Linked DNA regions of Homo sapiens. The protein of the gene in region 1 purifies or fractionates together with the protein of each later gene. This does not show direct contact. Each region holds a gene or a part of one and is shown in the gene's direction. Other genes may lie near its edges. The genes, in order: MYOF and EHD2.

What was found.
Region 2: the proteins of MYOF (region 1) and EHD2 purify together in Homo sapiens (affinity purification with western blotting, with the first as the bait; one study listed by BioGRID). This does not show direct contact.

What each region holds. Positions count from the first base shown.
Region 1 is NC_000010.11:93,349,524-93,353,334, reverse strand, and holds part of MYOF (myoferlin), read left to right. Parts: intron 1-1,488; coding exon 1,489-1,670; intron 1,671-1,763; coding exon 1,764-1,922; intron 1,923-2,039; coding exon 2,040-2,138; intron 2,139-3,365; coding exon 3,366-3,527; intron 3,528-3,811. UniProt on the Homo sapiens protein: Calcium/phospholipid-binding protein that plays a role in the plasmalemma repair mechanism of endothelial cells that permits rapid resealing of membranes disrupted by mechanical stress. Involved in endocytic recycling.
Region 2 is NC_000019.10:47,711,710-47,716,271, forward strand, and holds the start of EHD2 (EH domain-containing protein 2), read left to right. Parts: upstream 1-1,712; 5' UTR 1,713-1,829; intron 1,830-4,562. UniProt on the Homo sapiens protein: ATP- and membrane-binding protein that controls membrane reorganization/tubulation upon ATP hydrolysis. Plays a role in membrane trafficking between the plasma membrane and endosomes. Important for the internalization of GLUT4.

The sequences.
Region 1 (3,811 bases):
AATACCATAAAACCATGAGGCTTTTTCTTCTCTTGCACTGACACCCAGCTGCTTTTGTTGCTTCGGACTGGTTCTGAGAGGAAGGCTATTGGCAAGGGACAGGGGAGGAGGGGAGAACATGCCTGTCTGGGGATTTGAGTCCTTGCCGCTGAACCATGGATAGTTCAGGCTATCTGGGGAGAATTCCAGTTTGGGACTCAAAGCCCAGCAGAGTTTCCCTGGGCCTTCTATGAAAACACCTCTTAACCCATTTCCCATTTGCCCCGAGAAATGAGTGCTGGCAGCGAGCTGCACTTTTTTATTCCAAACGGAAAGTTTGTTAAAGCATTTGACTGACACTCTCATGTGCTCACATCAATTTTGAAGCGTGTTCCAAGCACTAATATTTACCAATATTTGTGAATGGTTTCCTTTTCTTAGAAATTTGAGCAGATTCAAGGTTATCTCTGCAATATACATCTCCAACAGGGTCTTTGAAGACATTTTCAAATATTTTCCACCAGGGGGCACTCTATCACTGAAAGTTAAAAAAACATCTTTCCAAAGTTCTTGACTAAAGCTTCATAAAACTCTAAGCACATTCCTTGCAGTTTGAGATAGAAGAATTATCATCAGGGCAAAAGCAAAGGGTTCATATGATGGCTCCACTGCTAGAAACCAAGCACTTTTGGCTTATACAAGAGTTTCAGGCTAGATATTGTGTTATTTTTCAGATAAGTCAGCCCCCAGGCAACTGCAAAAAGTTTGATGAAATTATTTAGCAAGGAGGAGAACATGGATTATTTCTCCATACATAATATTGCTTTCTCTCCATTCTTAAGTATAGTGAGACAAAGTTTTCTGCTGTCACAGATTGTAAACTCTATGAGCATCTGAGCTTTTCCGGCTGCTGTTATACTCTTGAGACCTGGAACTCAATAAATATTTGCTGAATAAATCGATTACCATCAACATTAGAAACAACTATAATAAAAACTAGCATTTATCAGATACTTCCTATAGGACAGGCTCTGTCCCAAATAGCTAACATTCCTTATATCATTTCATCCTCTCAACACCGTGAAGCAGATATTACTTTCATTGCATGGAGGAGGGGATCAACGTTTAGGAAGATTATTTTTTCCCTCAAAGTTATGCAGCAGGGGTGAAGTGTGGGTGTTGACCCCAGGTGTATCTGACTGCAGAGCCTCACTCAACCATGAGTGCAGTACTTTTGCAGAGAAAAACTATGGGCCCCATTAACCTTGGTGGGGACATACTCTAAAGAGTGACCTCTCAGTACACATCAGGGTCTCGCTTCAGGTGCCTCTGCTGCAGTGCCAGAACCTTCCATGGGGAACTCCCTGCTCCCTAGAAACCCTATCTCCAGGCAGGTGGTCAGAGCCCACTGTCATTATATCCAGAGGAAAAGAATATGGTTGCACTGAGTGGTTCTGGGGAGTTAGATTTTAGCCGTGGCCCCGTTGTTATTCTCTTTTTCTGTTTTAGATCCATATGCTCATATCTGTTTCCTCCATCGGAGCAAAACCACTGAGATCATCCATTCAACCCTGAATCCCACGTGGGACCAAACAATTATATTCGATGAAGTTGAAATCTATGGGGAACCCCAAACAGTTCTACAGAATCCACCCAAAGTTATCATGGAACTTTTTGACAATGACCAAGTGGTAGGTCGTTTAGAATTTCTAAGATAACTTGGGGATGATGGAGATTTGAAGGGATGATTGTCGGGGAATTTAAGGATCACTTTGTTTCTCTAGGGCAAAGATGAATTTTTAGGACGAAGCATTTTCTCTCCTGTGGTGAAACTGAACTCAGAAATGGACATCACACCCAAACTTCTCTGGCACCCAGTAATGAATGGAGACAAAGCCTGCGGGGATGTTCTTGTAACTGCAGAGCTGATTCTGAGGGGCAAGGTACATTGCTGTGTTCTTCCTCATGTATTCTGTCAGCTGCTTAAAATGCATGTTAATTCTAGGCACTGTTTGCTTGAACTAAAGTGAGGCATTGACATATCCATGTTTGTTTCACAGGATGGCTCCAACCTTCCCATTCTTCCCCCTCAAAGGGCGCCAAATCTATACATGGTCCCCCAGGGGATCAGGCCTGTGGTCCAGCTCACTGCCATTGAGGTATGCTGCTCCCCACGTGTTACTCATCAAATCAAACGGATGTGACTGCAGGACAGGAATCTTTTGTATAGAACATAGAATCCTGCTGCATATTTTCTTGCTATCTCCAACTTCCTTTACAACTTGTCCAAAAACTGGAGGTATTCATGGGAGTAGAAGGCTTGTTGAAGCAACAAGGACAGGTCAATTCTAACATTCCTGAGGGCATCTAAACTCCTCATTTACTGGGAGCCAGCAGGTTTCTGAGTTTTTCAGGTCAACTGGAGACCTGGGAGAGGGAAGATGGACGAGAAGAGAATGACGGTGTATATGCTGAGAGATGGGGGCATGGCAGGGAGGCAGAGATGGAAGTTGGATGGGAGCAGTGAGCAATGTTGACATGTCAGATACAAGCTGATGACCCCAACAAGGTGGCTTGATAGACAGTGTCTGGCCCACTCTCAAGACTTTCCCCGTCCAGTCAAGCAGCTGTTAACACCCCAAGATTTCCCTTCTCTGGCTGTCCTGCTAAGAGTTCTCAAAGGCTGAGGCTATCACTTCGAAATGCTTCCATGTCAGACACCGTGTTAAGAAGTTTACAGGTGGGCTGGATGCAGTAGCTCACGCCTGTAATTCCAGCACTTTGGGAGGCCAAGGCAGGTGGATCACTTGAAGTCAGGAGTTCGAGGCCAACCCGGTCAACATGGTGGAACCCTGCCTCTACTAAAAATACAAAAATTAGCTAGGCATGGTGGCACACACCTGTAATCCCAGCTACTTGGGAAGCTGAGACATGAAAATCACTTGAACTCAGGGGGTGGAGGTTGCAGTGAGCCTAGTTCGTGCCACTGTACCCCAGCCTGGGTGACAGAGTGAGACTCTGTCTCAAAAAAGAAAAAAAAAAAGTTTACAGGTGGTCATCAATATAACCCTATGACAGATAATACGATCAGTCTTGTTTGTAGATGAGACATAGGGAGGTGAGTTACCTTGTCAGCATTGACACAGCTATTAGATGGCACAGCCAGGATTTGATTCCTATACTCTTAACTGCATTGCTTTTTTAGGGGCTCAGGCAGGAGAAAGAAAGGGGCAAAACCACTTTCTTTGGATGACCTACAAGCTTACTAGGATAATGTTCAAATTAATCTTAAAGACTTTGCCAGTAATTAAGACAGAATTTTTCCTTTTGAATATTATTTTTAAAGTGCTGAGTTACCTTCCCCTCTCTTTAAATCGTTTTCATAGATTCTAGCTTGGGGCTTAAGAAATATGAAAAACTTCCAGATGGCTTCTATCACATCCCCCAGTCTTGTTGTGGAGTGTGGAGGAGAAAGGGTGGAATCGGTGGTGATCAAAAACCTTAAGAAGACACCCAACTTTCCAAGTTCTGTTCTCTTCATGAAAGTGGTACAGTATCGATTCTCTGTGATCACCCATGCGCGTTGAAATATGAAAGTATGTGCCTCACACACACACACACAAACACAGAGTTTATTTCCAAAACCTGACAAATAGAAAAACCCTGCCTTATATTCAGCTTGTCAGTGACTTTTTCCCCTTAAATTCTCCCACTGTAGTGATGATTTCTTAAAGCTTCAAAATAACTCCAGTGGCACAGAAATATCTGTGAGCAATACTTACTTATTTCTCCAGTAAACTTTCCATCTATTCAGCTATCTATTACAAGCTGT
Region 2 (4,562 bases), on another chromosome or scaffold:
AAACCAAAACCCCAAAACTCCTGTTTCTTGGAGATATGATGAGGGTTCGATGAGCTAATACATGCATGCAAAGAGCTCAGAGCGGTGCCTGCACATAGGAATGGCTCAGTCAACATTAGGGATTGTTTCTACAAATGTTTACTGAGCCCCTGCAGGGAGTTGGGCATTGTGCAAAGCCCTCACGGGGCTCATGTTCTCAGGGCAAAGACAGTCCCTTAGGCAGAGAAATGTGGAATATGCAGAGTGGTTGGGAGGGCTGTGGAGAAAAATAGGGCAGTGATAAGAGGTAGAGAGTGGGTTCTACCTTAGCCAGGGTGATCCTGGAGGACTTCTCTGAGGAGGTGACATTTGAGCAGGGACCTGAAGGAGGGGAGAGAGTGAGGCATTCAGATCCCTATGGGGAAAGTACTCCATGGAGAGGAGTCAGCAAGTGCAAAGGCCATGAACTTGGAGGGTTGGGGGTGTGTCTGAGGAATGGTGAGGAGGCCACGGCGGTTGGAGCCGCCTGAGGAAGGGGGACAGGGGAGATGTAGGTGGATCATGCTAGGCTTTGTGGGCCTTGGTGTGGACTTCGGCTTTTACTCTGAGAGAGAGGAGAGCCAGGGAGGGTTGTCAGCTGAGAAGTTTCATCAACTCCCTTAAGTTTTAATATTAATATTATATTTACTTATTTATTTGCGATGGATTCTCACTCTGTCACCCAGGCTGGAGTGCAGTGGCGTGATCTTGGCTCACTGCAACCTCTGCCTCCTGGGTTCCAGTGATTCTGGAACTTGGGAGCCTCAGCCTCCCAAGTAGCTAGGACTACAGGTGCGTGCCTGCATCCAGCTAATTTTTGTTTATTTATTTATTTTTGAGATGGAGTCTTGCTCTGTCCCCAGGCTGGAGTGCAGTGGCGCAATCACTGCAAGCTCCACCTCCCCTGTGTTTAAGTGATTCTCCTGCCTCAGCTTCCCAAATAGCTGGGACTACAGGCGCCCGCCACCACGCCCAGCTAATTTTTTTGTATTTTTAGTAGAGATGGGTTTGCACCATGTTGGCCAGGCTGGTCTTGAACTCCTGACCTCAAGTGATCCACCCGCCTCGGCCTCCCAAAGTGCTGGGATTACAGGCGTGAGCCACCGCGCCCCGTCCTATTATTTTTTTTAGAGGTGAGGTCTCGCTCTGTCACCCAGGCTGGAGTGCAGTGGCACAATCATAGCTCACTGCAGCCTTGACCTCCTGGGTTCAAGCTATCCTCCCACCTCAGCTTTCCAAGTTGCTGGGATCACAGGTGTGCACCCCTGTGCCTGGCTAAATTATTTTATTATTTATTATTATTTTTAATAGACATGGGGTCTCGCTATATTGTCCAGGCTGGTCTTGGACTCCTGGCCTCAAGCAATCTTCCCACCCTGGCCTTCCAAAGTGTTAGGGTTACAGGCGTGAGCCAGGGCGCCCGACCTGTTATTGTTACTATTATTGCTGCTGCTGTTGTGATTCCCGTGTTAAGAAGAGAGACAGACTGGGGAGCAGCCCAACGCTGGAGGTGGAGGCGGAATTCGAACCCCAGGCTGGACGCTGGAGCTCTCGCCCGCCGTGCTAAGGCGTCTTCCCCACTCCCCACAAGGGGGCGCCAGAGGCCGGGCGCCCGGTTTTGAGGGGGGCGCCTCGTCCCGCCCCTCCCTCCTGTCCTCCCTCCCGTCCTCCCCGCTCCGGGCCCCACCCGGCTCAGACGGCTCCGGACGGGACCGCGAGCACAGGCCGCTCCGCGGGCGCTTCGGATCCTCGCGGGACCCCACCCTCTCCCAGCCTGCCCAGCCCGCTGCAGCCGCCAGCGCGCCCCGTCGGTGAGTGCTCCCAGCACCGCAGCTGTCGCCTCCCGACCCCCGCCCAAGCCTGCCCTGGTTCCTCATGCCTGACCCCTGCTCCCTGCCACCCTGTCCCCAGTCTGTAACGGTCTCCCCAGGTGTCCCCCAGTCTTCACCAGTCCCCCCAGTCTGTAACCATGTCCCCCACTCTTCCCACTCCTCCCACTCTTCCTCCCACTCTTCCTCCAGTCTTTCGCAGCCTCTCACACTCCCCCAGTCTCCTCCATCCTCCCCCAACACCCCTCCCTATCCCCTGGGCTAGAAGAGATCCTCTCTGCAGGGTCTCCCTCCACGCCCTCATCCATATCAGCTAACTTGGTCCCTCCAGCCACTCAAGAGCCCCTCTCCTGCCTCACCAGCTCCATCGGCCACCGCTGATAGCATTCTCCCCAGCTCTCTCTCAGGGCCCTCCCTGCCTGGGACACCGCCCAGAGCCCTCTCCCTCTGCCCACATCCCAGATCCTGCCTCTCTTTTCCATTCTTGCCACTCCTTTACGAACTCCTTTTGCTTTTATCTCCCCTACTCCCTGGCCACCCCTTTTAAGTCTCATGATTTTATGGATTTTAGCATATTTGATTTGCAGTTATTTTGATGCTCAAATTGCCCCATGTTTGGCCACTGGGCACCCCTGCAAGCTGGGTCCTCTGTCCCTGTAACATGCCCTATCGGCCTTTGAGCACTTCCTCACCTTCTGACCCAGGCTCACTTGTTCTTCCCTGCCCCCGCCCTGGAATCCACCATTTCTCTAAGGAGTCCCAGGTTCTTTTAGTGGGGAATGGTATTTAGAGACTCCCATCTCACCAAAAGTTGATTCTTTGAAAAGATCAGTAAAATCATAAGCATCAACGGGGAGCAATCGTTTTTGTTTTTCTTTTTTAAAAAAAGCAAATACCCACACCTGTGGCTGATATCGGGAATGAAAGAGGGGACATCACTACAGATCCTACGGTGAATAAAAGGCTAGTAAGGGAAGATAGAGAACACAGTCTGGGTGCTGGAGGTGCTCATTGCTCCTGGGTTGGTCATGGCTAACCTCCCTAACTCAGATCTTTAGACCTATAATAGGATTGCAACCTCTGAGGTCAGGCTGCCTGTGTTTGAGTCCCAGCTTGAGCATTTTCCAGCTAAGTGATCTTGGGTAATTTATTGCTGTCTTCCTGAGCCTCCTTTGCCTTGTTAAAAAAGCAGAGATGAGCCGGCATGGTGGCACACACCTGTAATCCCAACAATTTGGGAGGCTGAGGTGGGTGGATCACCTGAGCTCAGGAGTTCGAGACCACCCAGGGCAACATGGTGAAACCCATCTCTACTAAAAATACAAAAAAAAATTAACTGGGTGTGGTGGTGCATGCCTCTAGTCCCAACTACTTGGGAGGCTGAGGCAGGAGAATCCCTTGAGCCCCAGAGGTGAAGGCTGCAGTGAGCTGAGATTGTATCACTGCACTCCAGCTTGGGCTACAGAGTGAGACTCCATCTCCAAATAAATAAATAAATAAATAAATAAATAAATAAATAAATAAAAAGAAAGAAAAGCAAAGCAAAGCAGGGATGATAATAGACCTACTTTACAGGGTTATAAATGTTAAGTGAGTTAGTACAGTACCTGGCATGCAGTGATCATAAATGTTGCATTATTTTTCTTGTTAACACCCAACAGCCCTCATGACCTGGGTGCACCCAGGCAACCTTCTCAGCTCCATTTCTCACCCCTCCTCTTTGTGCCCCTGTGTCTGGCCACCTACCCAGATGTTTCATGGCTCCCAGTACACCAGGACCTTTCACATCCCCAGACCTTTGCACGCACCGTCCTCTCTGCCTAAATCCCCTTGTCTTGCCTGCTCTTCATGGAGCAGCTCAAAAGTCAACCCTGCCCTGAGTCTTACTGGTGCTGTGGTCTGTTTCTCATGCCCTCCTCTGGATGTCTGGCATGTGTCTGGGTCCTTACTGGGGGCCCTGGGTGGGTAGGGGATGATCTCTGGCTCATTTCTGGGTCCACAGTGCCTGAAGCATGGAGTGAGTGATTTCAGTGAAAAGGTGTCAAATGATGGAAGGGAGAAGGGAGGAAGAAATGAATGAAGCGATTAAGGAATCCGTTTCTTCCAGGCAGCTTCTGCATCCTTCGCCTTGTCCATCTCTTGGTCTTCCACTACCACCATCAATCCCCCTTCTTCAACCATGTCACCATTAATCTTTCTCCTCCTTCAGCTGGTTCGCTACGATCTCCCTATTTTTTTTGAAATGGAGTGTCGCTCTGTCAAGTGCAGTGGCGGGATCTCGGCTCACTGCAACCTCTGCCTCCTGGGTTCAAGTGATTCTCCTGTCTCAGCCTCCCAAGTAGCTGGGACTACAGGTGGCCACCACCAGGCCTGGCTAATTTTTTGTATGTTTAGTAGAGACAGGATTGCACCATATTGGTCAGGCTGGTCTCAAACTCCTGACCTCAGGTGGTCCACCTGCCTCAGCCTCCCGAAGTGCTGGGATTACAGGCATGAGCCACTGTGCCTGGCCTTTTTTTTTTTTTTTTTTTTTGAGATGGGGTCTTACTCTGTAGCCCAGGCTGGAGTGCAGCGGCATGATCATAGCTCACTGCAGCCTGCAGCCTTGAACTCCTGAGCTCAAGCAATCCTCCTGCCTCAGCCTCCCAAAGTGCTAGGACTACAGGCATGCACCACCATGCCCAGCTAATTATTTTTTTTGTAGAGATGGGGGTC